Linked DNA regions of Homo sapiens: region 2 is linked to region 1. Evidence: fine-mapped expression QTL. A gene starts in region 1. The other region holds a variant in brackets. All regions are shown on one strand. Distances are between the middles of the regions.

Region 1 (5,373 bases):
CAGGCGGATCACTCCTCCACTGGAGCCATCCCGCTCCATGGCCAAAGCGAGAGCTGTGGATAAAAGAAGAAAGCTGGGTTCAGATTCAGATGCCGGGATCACTGCAAGGAATGAGGAATGCTGGCCTGGCTTGGGTAGTTGGGGTTGAAGCTCATAGGCCCAGAAGCCTAAGCTCTCACCATTGGCAGTGAATTGCAGACACTCTTCCTTGGTCATGCCTTCCCGGTAGGTAGCATCAACATAGCCATAGATGTAGGAGCTCCCGGAGCCTCCAATGGCAAAGGACTGCCTTACCATCATACCCCCCATAGGCACTGAGTACACCTGCCAGATAGAAGGAGAGGAGTCACCAGTCGTATCCTCCCTCCAACACACGTACATTCACCTGTCCATTCTGCTATTGGTCTGAGGCACGTTAATAGTAAGAATAAGTGAGGTAGAGACTGGAAAGAAAAAGAAAATGGCTGGGGAGAGGATAAAAGTCCTGGCTCAAGTGTGCTCTGGTCGGGTGGGGATCTGACCTGCCCTCCTTCTTGAGGGTCCCAGCCTGCGATGATGATTCCCGCCATCAGGTCTTCCCGGTATCGGTAACACATCTCCTTAAAGAGGCTGGCTGCTGTGTGGACCAGTGGAGGCTCATTCAGTTCAATGCTAGAGGGTCAGGGAAGTCACAGAGAAAGTTTCAAGACCTAGAAGTCAGGCTATTTAGCTCCTCAGCTTCCAACTCCCTTCAGATACTTGCCCCTCCCCTGCCCACAAGCACCTGTGGAAACCGAGCTGGTAGGTGACAGCATCAGCTACTGCCTGGGTATCAGCAGCTGAGCCTGAGCGACAGCAGAAAATGCGGTCGTGAATAGGTGTCAGCTTGTCAGTCACTCGATTGGCGATGTAGGACCTGCAGGATGGCAGAATAGTGAGGAAAGGAGCCCACCTGTCTTCCACCTCCATCCCATCACTACCCACTCTCTTAGGGCTCAGGGATAGGATGTCCAGTATTGCCTTTTTTTCCTTTTTCTTTGAGATGGAGTCTCGCTCTGTTGCCCAGGCTGGAGTACAGTGACGCGATCTCTGCTCACTGCAACATCCACCTCCTGGGTCCAAGCGATTCTCTAGCCCTAGCCTCCCAAGTAGCTGGGACTGCAGGCACGCACCGCCACGCACGGCTAATTTTTGTATTTTTTAGTAGAGACGGGGTTTCGCCATGTTGGCCAGGCTGGTCTCGAACTCCTGACCTCAGGTGATCCACCCGCCTCGGCCTCCCAAAGTACTGGGATTACAGGCGTGAGCCACCGTGCCTGGCCTCCAGTATTGCTTATTCTCATCCAAACTGAAGCGGGCTGGAGAACAGACTTTTGTAAGGATTCCACTAACGAGTGAGGGGAACTGAAAGTAACAAAAGTTGGGACAAATCTTTATCTCCAGAGAGAGAAGAAACCTCTCTTCCCACAGTGGTCTGTGGAGGCAGGCAGGGTGGGCTGGCAGGCAGGAAAGGAAAAGGAAGATGGGAAGACCTTTCACAAATCTGTCCTGAGCTCACCCAGTGGTTGTTCTGGAGTCCGCCCCCAGAACCACGCCCCCGTCAAACTGCACGGCCATGATAGTGGTCTGGGAAAAGGGAAAAAGGAGTAAGTCTACATTCTCCAGCAGACACAAACCTCAATGATCTCTCTACCTAGTTCCAAAAATACAAAATCTGTCCGTCGCTGAACCATTTTCAAATCTTATAGGGGCCTCAGCACCCCGCAGAATACCAGAATGCCAACCCTCAAATCTCAAAAGACTCATCCCGTACTTAAGCCCAAGATCCTCACTAGCCTCGCAGGATTTCAGAATTTCAAACTTCAGCCCACCCTCCACCTCCCACTACGAAGCTACCGCACCACTCCACCATCTTCGGGGTACCTCTCCCCATTCCTGGAGCACAACACATTCCACCTCCTCTCCACCCCTGCCAGATCTCTCAACCCCACTCAGGCTTTATCTTCCCATCGCGTCAGGCCTTGTGCACGTCCTATGAACCCCGATTCCTTCCTCACCCCAGTGGAAACTTCTCGGCTTTCCCAGTCTGGAGTGAACGCCTCCGGCCCCCAAGCCGGTGCTGGCCCGGCTCCCCGAGCAGCTAGTAAGGTAGCCGCCATCTTTCTCCTCCGGTACTGCCTCAAAGCAACTGTCGTAAAGCGCTCTGTCACGCTCTTTGGTCGCGCTTTGAGGCCTTCTGGGAGCGAAGCTACTCCGAGGTTGACGGCAGAAGGGAAAAGAAAAGTACAGTACTGCATGGGGACGGTTCTTTTGCGACAGTGAGCACTTGATGGCAGCGTGGCAAGCAACAAACAAAACAAGAAAGTCAGCAAAACCCCCCCCCCAAAAAACCAAAAAAAACCCAAAAACCGTTCGGCACTTTGGGAGGCTGAGGCGGGCGGATCATGAGGTTAGGAGTTCAAGACCAGCCTGGCCAACATGGTGAAACTCCTTCTCTACTAAAAAATACAAAAATTAGCCGGGCGTGGTGGGGCGCGCCTGTAATCCCGGCTACTGGGGAGGCTGAGGCAGGAGAATCGCTTGAGCCTGGGAGGCGGAGGTTACAGTGAGCCGAGATCACGCCACTGCACTCCAGCCTGAGCGACAGAGCAAGACTGTCTCAAAACAAAAGCAAAAACAAAACAAAACAAAAAACAGTCCTAGTGGCTTGCGCCGTACCGATCTTATGGAGTTACAGTCCAAAGGGCCCACAAAATAAACCTGAGAGTCTTTGGGCTAAAGTGACCACACCATGTTTTCATTTCTTTTAGTTATATACTTAGGAGTATATGCTGGCAGAGGAATTTATGGGTTCTATGATAACTGTATGTTTAACATTTTGAGCAACCGACAAACTGTTTTCCACAGAAACTGCACCATTTTACATCCCTACAAGCCATGTGTGAGGGTTCCAATTTCTCCACATCCTCACCAACACTTGTTATTGTGCATTTTTTTAGTTATAGCCATTCCAGTGGGTGTGAAGTGGTACCCTGTGGTTTTCATTGGTATTTTTCTAATGATTAGTGATGCTGAGCATATTTCCATGAGATAATTGGCCATTTGTATGTCTTTTTTGATGCAATGTTTTTTCAAGTTCTTTGCACATTCTAAAATTGGGATATGTCTTTTGTTTAATATATTTTTGGGGTTTAATTTTTTTTTTTTGAGACGAGGGTGGGGTGTGTGTGTGGGGTGGGTTTGTCTTGCGGTGTTTCCCAGGCTGGAGTGCAGATGGGATCATGGTGCACTATATCAGCCTCGAACTCCTGGGCTCCAGTGATCCTCCCGCCTCAGCTTCTCAAGTAGCTGGGACTACAGGTGTGTGCCACTGAACCCAGCTCTATTTGTCTTTTTTTTTTTTTTTTTTTTTTTTTGAGACGGAGTCTCGCTCTGTCGCCCAGGCGGGACTGCGGACTGCAGTGGCGCAATCTCGGCTCACTGCAAGCTCCGCTTCCCGGGTTCACGCCATTCTCCTGCCTCAGCCTCCCGAGTAGCTGGGACTACAGGCGCCCGCCACCGCGCCCGGCTAATTTTTTTTGTATTTTTAGTAGAGACGGGGTTTCACCTTGTTAGCCAGGATGGTCTCGATCTCCTGACCTCATGATCCACCCGCCTCGGCCTCCCAAAGTGCTGGGATTACAGGCGTGAGCCACCGCGCCCGGCCTCTATTTGTCTTTTTATACTGGTGTGATCTCGGCTCACTGCAGCTTCCGCCTCCCGGGTTCCAGCAATTCTCTTGCCCCAGCCTCCCAAGTAGCTGGGATTACAGGCATGCGCCACCATGCCCGGCTAATTTTTGTATTTTTATTAAAGAGATGGGGTTTCGCCATGTTGGCCAGGCCGGTCTCGAACTCCTAACCTCAGGTGATCCTCCCGCCTCGGCCTCCGAAAGTGCTAGGATTACAGGCATGAGCCACTGTGCCTGGCTCTATTTGTCTTTTTATTGTTGAGTTGTAAGGGTCCTTTTTAATATTCTAGGTACTAGAAACATCAGATACATGATTTGAAAATATTTTCTCCCATTGGATTGTCTTTTCATGTCCTTCATTGGTGTTCTTTGAAGCATGAAAGTTTATAGTGCCAGCTCTTACATTTTTAGGTCTGTGGTCCATTTTGAGTTAATTTTTGTATGTGATGTGAAGTAGAAGTCCAAATCCATGCTTTTGCATATGGATAGTCAGTTAGTTGTTCCAGCACCATTTGTTGAAAAGACCTGCCGGGTGCAGTGGCTCACGCCTGTAATCCCAGCACTTTGGGAGGCTGAGGCAGGCGGATCACGAGGTCAGGAGACTGAGACCATCCTGGCTAACACGGTGAAACCCCTCTACTAAAAATACAAAAAAAAAATTAGCCGGGTGTAGTGGTGGGCGCCTATAGTCCCAGCTACTCGGGAGGCTGAGGCAGGAGAATGGTCTGAGACCAGGAGGCGGAGCTTGCAGTGAGCCGAGATCGGGCCGCTGCACTCCCAAGCCTGGGCAACAGAGCAAGACTCCGTCTCAAAAAAAAAAAAAAAAAAAAAAAGACTGTCTCCCCATTGAATGATCTTGGCACCCTTGTTAAAAATCATTGACCATACATGTATGGACTTACTTCTGGATTCTCAGTTTTGTTTCATTGATCTATATGTCTATCCTATGCCAGTATCATATTGTCTCTATTACTGTAGCTTTGTAGTACTTCTTTTCTTTTCTTTTCTTTTCTCCTTTTCTTTTCTTTCCTTCCTTCCTTCCTTCGTTCTTTCTTTTCTTTTCTTTCTTGACAGATCTTGCTCTGTCACCCAGGCTGGAGAACAGTGGCGTGATCTTGGCTCACTGCAACTTCCACCTCCCAGGTTCAAGCAGTTCTTTTGCCTCAGCCTCTGAAGTAGCTGCGACTACAGGCGCCTGCCACCACGCCAGGCTAATTTTTGTAATTTTAGTAGAGACGGGGTTTCACCATATTGGCCAGGCTGGTCTCAAACTCCTGACCTCGTGATCTGTCCGCCTCGGCCTCCCAAAGTGCTGGGATTACAGGCGTGAGCCACTGCGCCCGGCCCTTTAATTTCTTTTAACAGTGTTTATAATAGTTTTCAATATATAGGTCTTGCACTTCTTTGGTTAAATTTGTTCCCAAGTATTTTATTCTTTTTGATGCTGTTATAAGTGACATTGTCTTCTTAATTTCATTTTTGGATTGTTCATTGCTAGTACATAGAAATACAACTGATTTTGGTTTTGATCTTGTATTCTGCAACTTCATTGAACCATTTATTAGTTCTTTTTGTTTGTTTGTTTGTTTTGTTTTTGAGACAGTCTTACTCTGTTGCCCAGGCTGGAGTACAGTGGCGCAATCTCGGCTCACTGCAGTCTCCAC
Region 2 (5,373 bases), 27 kb after region 1:
AAATAAATAGATAAATAAATAAGTGATGCCACTTGCCTTGTGGGCTACTTGTGAGGATTAAATGGGACAACCTGAGAAGTATTTTGTAAACTAGGAAGCACAGAGCAGATGTGTGGTGGCCTCTTCGTTTCTGCCAGCCTCTCAGGCAGCATTCTTCCCAGGGAGAAATTAAAGAGGTGATTGTGGGCTCTTATTGTCCTTGCATTTCGTCTTCCTGGTATTTGATTATTGATGTCTCCTCCTCTTGAGGCCACTGCCTGTCTCTCAGGGTGGGCTCGGGACCTAGGCCTCATTGATGAGAGCGTTCTATCCTGCTAGCCTCGGTGTTTGATTTAGCAACAGCCATGCGATCTGAGCCAACTCTGTGAGAATCAGCTTCTGCCATTTTTCCATTCTGAGGTCAAAGAAGTTCTGTTTTTGTTGGGGTGCTGCAGTTTCCTTGATAACTTCTTTTTTTTTTGAGACGGAGTCTCACTCTGCCGCCCAGGCTGGAGAGCAGTGGCGTGATCTTGGCTCACTGCAACCTCCGCCTCCTGGGTTCAAGCGATTCTCCTGCCTCAGCCTCCCAAGTAGCTGGGATTACAGGCGCCCACCACCACACCCAGCTAATTTTTGTATTTTTAGTAGAGACGGGGTTTCACCATGTTGGCCAGGCTGGTCTCAAACTCCTCACCTCAAATGATCCACCTGCCTCAGCCTCCCAAAGTGCTGGGATTACAAGCATGAGCCAAGCCACCCAGTCGACTTCTTTTTTTTTTAATTAAAAAAATGTTTTTGAGACCAGGGTCTCCCTTTGTTGCCCAGGCTGGTGTGGAGTGGATCATGGCTCCCTGCAGCCCTGACCACCTGGGCTCAAGTGATCCTCCCACCTCAGCCTCCCGAGTAGCTAGGACTATAGGTGTGTGCCACCACACCTGGCTAATGGTTTTTTGTTGTTTTTTTTTTGAGATGGAGTCTTGCTCTGTCACCCAGGCTGGAGTTTAGTGGTGTGATCTCGGCTCACTGCAACCTCTGCCTCCTGGGTCTCAGAAGCAAACAGGAGAGTGAAGGCCCCCACAGAATGAGCCCTAGCTCAAGTAGGATGTGGGAGTGCCATGAAGAGATGAGGGTAGCAGGAAGGGCTGCAGGGCTTCAGAGGGTATGCAATGAGGCTGTCACCTGGAAAGTGTCACCAGCCAGTGGCCCCTGATGCAGCCCCTCCTTGCGGCCCACTCAGACCACTACAGAAATGTGGAAAATGGAGAAAAGCCAGAATCTCTGCTATTTATAAGACAGAGGAACTGGATTGAGAAAAATACATGGAGAATTTACCTCTTGAATCAGAGGATGCCTGAAAAAGAAAATACTTTGAACCTCCCCAACTATTTGTCTCTGACTCATAGGTAATTATGATGACTGATACATTTGGTTTTGCTTCTGTTGGCATGTTTAATGCTTTAAACAACATTTCCATATTGCTTCTGATGTTTTCTGTTCCTCTTCTTTTTTGTTTTTTGAGACAGAGTTTTGCTCTTGTTGCCCAGGCTGGAGTGCAGTGGTGCGATCATGGCTCACTGCAACCTCCACCTCCCAAGTTCAAGCAATTCTCCTGCCTCAGCCTCCCGAGTAGCTGGGATTATAGGCATGCGACACCACGCCCAGCTAATTTTGTATTTTTAGTAGAGACGGGGTTTCTCCATGTTGGCCAGGCTAGTCTCGAACTCCCGACCTCAGATGATCCCCGCCTCGGCCTCCGAAAACGCTGGGATTACAGGCATGAACCACTGCGCCCAGCCTCTGTCCCTTTTCTTTAAAGATTTTACATTATCCTTTTTTTTTTTTTTTTGAGACAGGGTCTCTGTCACTCAGACTAGAGTGCCATGGTAAGATAATCATGGCTCGCTGCAGCTATGACCTCCTAGCTCAAGCTGTCTTCCCACTTCAGCTTCCTTAGTAGCCAGGATTACAGGCCCACACCACCACACTCAACTAATTTAAAAAATTTCTTTTGGCCGGGCGCAGTAGCTCACGCCTGTAATCCCAGCACTTTGGGAGGACAAGGTGGGCAGATCATGAGGTCAGGAGATCGAGACCATCCTGGCTACC[G/A]TGGTGAAACCCTGTCTCTACTAAAAATACAAAAAAAATTAGCTGGGTGTGGTGGCAGGCACCTGTAATCCCAGCTAGTCGGGAGGCTGAGGCAGGAGAATTGCTTGAACCCGGGAGATGGAGGTTGCAGTGAGCCGAGATTGCACCACTGGACTCCAGCCTGGGTGACAGAGGAAGACTCCATCTAGAAAAAAAAAAAAAAGATACAAGGAAAAGGGTCACATTGGATCCCACCCTAGATCACCTGACCCCCAGCCAACTCCTATGTGTGTATCAGTGAAATAAATGCTTATATTTATTTGACACTAAGACTTCGTCGAGGGGGATGGTTTGTTGCCCAGTAACAAGTTCCTAACACAGACCCCCTTATCTAGGCCAGGGCTGGTTGATTGAGGAACAAGTAGCTGACCCAAAGGCAGACATGTAGCCAGCGACCTGTGAGGTCTCTCGAGGTGAGAACTCCATCCAACAGAGGTACACTGACTGGATAATGACCAATCCACCGACTGGATCTTCATGATTGGGAAATGTGTCTGTGAGACAAGCTGAGACAGTCATCAGAGAGTGGGGTGGCTTCAAACTGAGAGTTGTATGCAAGAAAGAAGCAATCAAAAGCCAGAGGCAACTGACACCAGAAATAAGCAGAAGTCACAGCAAGAGAAGTGTATGGAGAATAGTTACTCTGAAACAGCGCCAGAGGGAGAAGCACAGGCACTGGAAAACTCTGGTTCCTCAGGAGGTGGCCGATGAGAGGTTGTCACCAGCACTAATGTTGAACTACCAGAGCAACTGTCATATCCCGAATAGTGGCCCTTCCAACCGTGGACCTGAAGAGGGGATTCAGCCATTGATCTGATGGACAGAGAGCAGGGCCAAGAGCTGGCCACCTATTTGTCTACAAGTTGCTCAAGCTGATTCTGAGAGATGGTGCCTCTTTTTTATTTTTTTTTAAACAGAGTTTCACTCTTATTGCCCAGGCTGCAGTGCAGTGGCGTGATCTCGGCTCACCGCCACCTCCGCCTCCCGGGTTCAGGAGACTCAAGTAGTTGGGATTACAGGTGCCCGCCACCACGCTTGGCTCATTTTTGTATTTTTTGTGGAGATGAAGACAGGGTTTCTCCATGTTGGCCAGGCTGCTCTCGAACTCCTGATCTCAGGTGATCCACCCACCTCGGTCTCCCAAAATGCTGGGATTACAGGTGTGAGCCACTGCGGCCAGCCAAATGGTGTCTGTTTTGAGGATGAATAAAGAGAAAAAAAATAGTTGTGTGGGTGGGGTGGTCCACAGGCATTCATTACATTATTTTTATACAATTCTGGATGAATGAAATAATGTTAATAATGTTAACAAAACATTATAGGGATTCTGAAAAATTTTCTCAAAACCAGGGAAGGGCAAATCAACCTGAAGACTGAAAGAAACAGAATCCTCTGGAGGAACATTTACTATAGGATTTGGAAGAGATTTCCAGGAAGATTTTTGATGACATCACTAGAATTCTCCTGGAACTAGGAACAGAATAACTTAAGAAAGAAAAGGCTGGCCGGGCGCGGTGGCTCACGCCTGTAATCCCAGCACTTTGGGAGGCCAAGCTCGGTGAATCACCTGAGGTCAGGAGTTTGAGACCAGCCTGGCCAACATGGCGAAACCCCATCTTCACAAAAAATACAAAAATTAGACAAGTGTGATGGCAGGCACCTGTAATCCCAGCTACTCAGGAGGCTGAGGCAGGAGAATCGCTTGAACCCGGGAGGTGGGGGTTGCAGTGAGCCGAGATCGCACCATTGCACCCCAGTATGGGCAACAGAGCAAGACTCCATCTCAAAAAAAAAAAAAAAAAAAAGGTCCAGGCTCAGTGGGTCACGCTTGTAATCCCAGCACTTTGGGAGGCCGAGGCGGGCAGATCACCTGAGGTCAGGAATTCGAGACCAGCCTGACCAACATGGGGAAACCCCGTCTCTACTAAAAATACAAAAATTAGCTGGGCATGGTGGCGGGTGCCTGTAATCCCCGCTACTCAGGAGGTTTAGGCAGGAGAATCGCTTGAACCCGGGAGGTGGAGATTGCAGTGAGCCAAGATCACGCCATTGCGCTTCAGCCTGGGTGACAGAGTGAGACTCTGGCTCAAAAAAAAAAAAAAAAAAATTCAGGAAACTGGCTTCTCCTAAGAACAAGAATAGAACTGGTGGAAGTGACACCACAGTTAAAACATCTGCACTAGGAGAAGACGTCACTGAGCGCAGATAGATCCACTCAGGTCAGTGGGTTGAAAGTTATACTGCACGGCAGGTAAAATATTAAAAGTCAGCTGACCATAGATTCATCCTGACAAAATATCTGAATTAAAGGATACATCTAGGCAGAATTTAAAAAGGCTACTTAGAAAGAAACAATAGTTGGTGTGGCCAGAGTCTTCTCTGAAATACTGAATGTCAGAGGACAAAGGAGTAAGGCAGCTGTGTCCACCAAAAAAGGTAGAACTATCATATACATGTCTAAGTTGCATTTTGTATGTTAAGGGCAACACAATTGCATTTCTGAGAATGTTTGGATTTCAAAATAACACTTTGGCTCCTTTTTTTTAGAGAAATTGTGTTGACTCACCAAGAGATGAAGTAAAATAAAAACCCCAAAATGGGGAAGTCTTGACGTAAGTCTAAATAAATTTCATATATCTGGTTACAAAACTGGATGCACATTTTGGAAAAAAATATTTTTCTTCTCTTTTGTTTTGAGTCAGAGTCTTGCTCTGTCATGCAGGCTGGAGTGCAGTGGCGTCATCTTGACTCTGCAACCTCAGCCTTCTGAGTTCAAGCGATTCTCCTGCCTTAGCCCCCCAAGTAGCTGGGATTACAAGCATGGGCCACCAGGCCTGGCTAATTTTTATATTTTTAGTAGAGACTAAGTTTCACCATGTTGGAGGGTGGTCTTGAACTCCTGACCTCAAGTGATCCACCTGTCTTGGCCTCCCAAAGTGCTGGGATTACAGGTATGAGCCACCACAACCCGGCCAGAGCCATTGTGCCCAGTCTCATTTTTTTTTAAAGACAGTGTCTCACTCTGTTGTCCAGACTGGTGTGCAGTGGCATGATCTTGGCTCACTGCAAACTCTATCTCCTGGGCTCAAGTGATCGTCCTGCCTCAGCCTGCCAAGTAACTGGGACTACAGATGTTCACCACCCACCATGCTTGTCTAATCTTTTTGTGTGTATATATGTAAATATATATATATATATTTTTTTTGAGACAGAGTTTCACTCTTGTTGCCCAGGCTGGAGTGCAATGGC

Direction of the effects. Alleles are on the strand shown, and positions count from the first base shown. SD is a standard deviation of normalised expression in the study named.
With allele A in place of G in region 2, the expression in monocytes after LPS of the gene that starts at base 2,169 in region 1 is higher (moderate effect, 0.41 SD a copy in Quach 2016).

What was found. PIP is the estimated chance that this variant, and not a neighbour inherited with it, causes the effect.
Region 2: its variant is fine-mapped to the expression of PSMB6 in monocytes after LPS (Quach 2016, PIP 0.95).

Annotation. Positions count from the first base shown.
Region 1 is chr17:4,792,960-4,798,332 of GRCh38, reverse strand. PSMB6 (proteasome 20S subunit beta 6) reads right to left here and starts at 2,169. Exons shown (of 6, transcript NM_002798.3): 1 at 2,037-2,169; 2 at 1,538-1,605; 3 at 764-895; 4 at 522-651; 5 at 180-324; 6 at 1-53. The coding sequence starts at 2,138. RefSeq lists enhancers at 1,856-2,385, 1,812-2,410.
Region 2 is chr17:4,765,830-4,771,202 of GRCh38, reverse strand. No RefSeq gene overlaps it. Among named protein-coding and RNA genes, the nearest start is that of TM4SF5, 3.4 kb to the left of the region's middle. The variant G/A (reference allele first, on the strand shown) is at 2,086.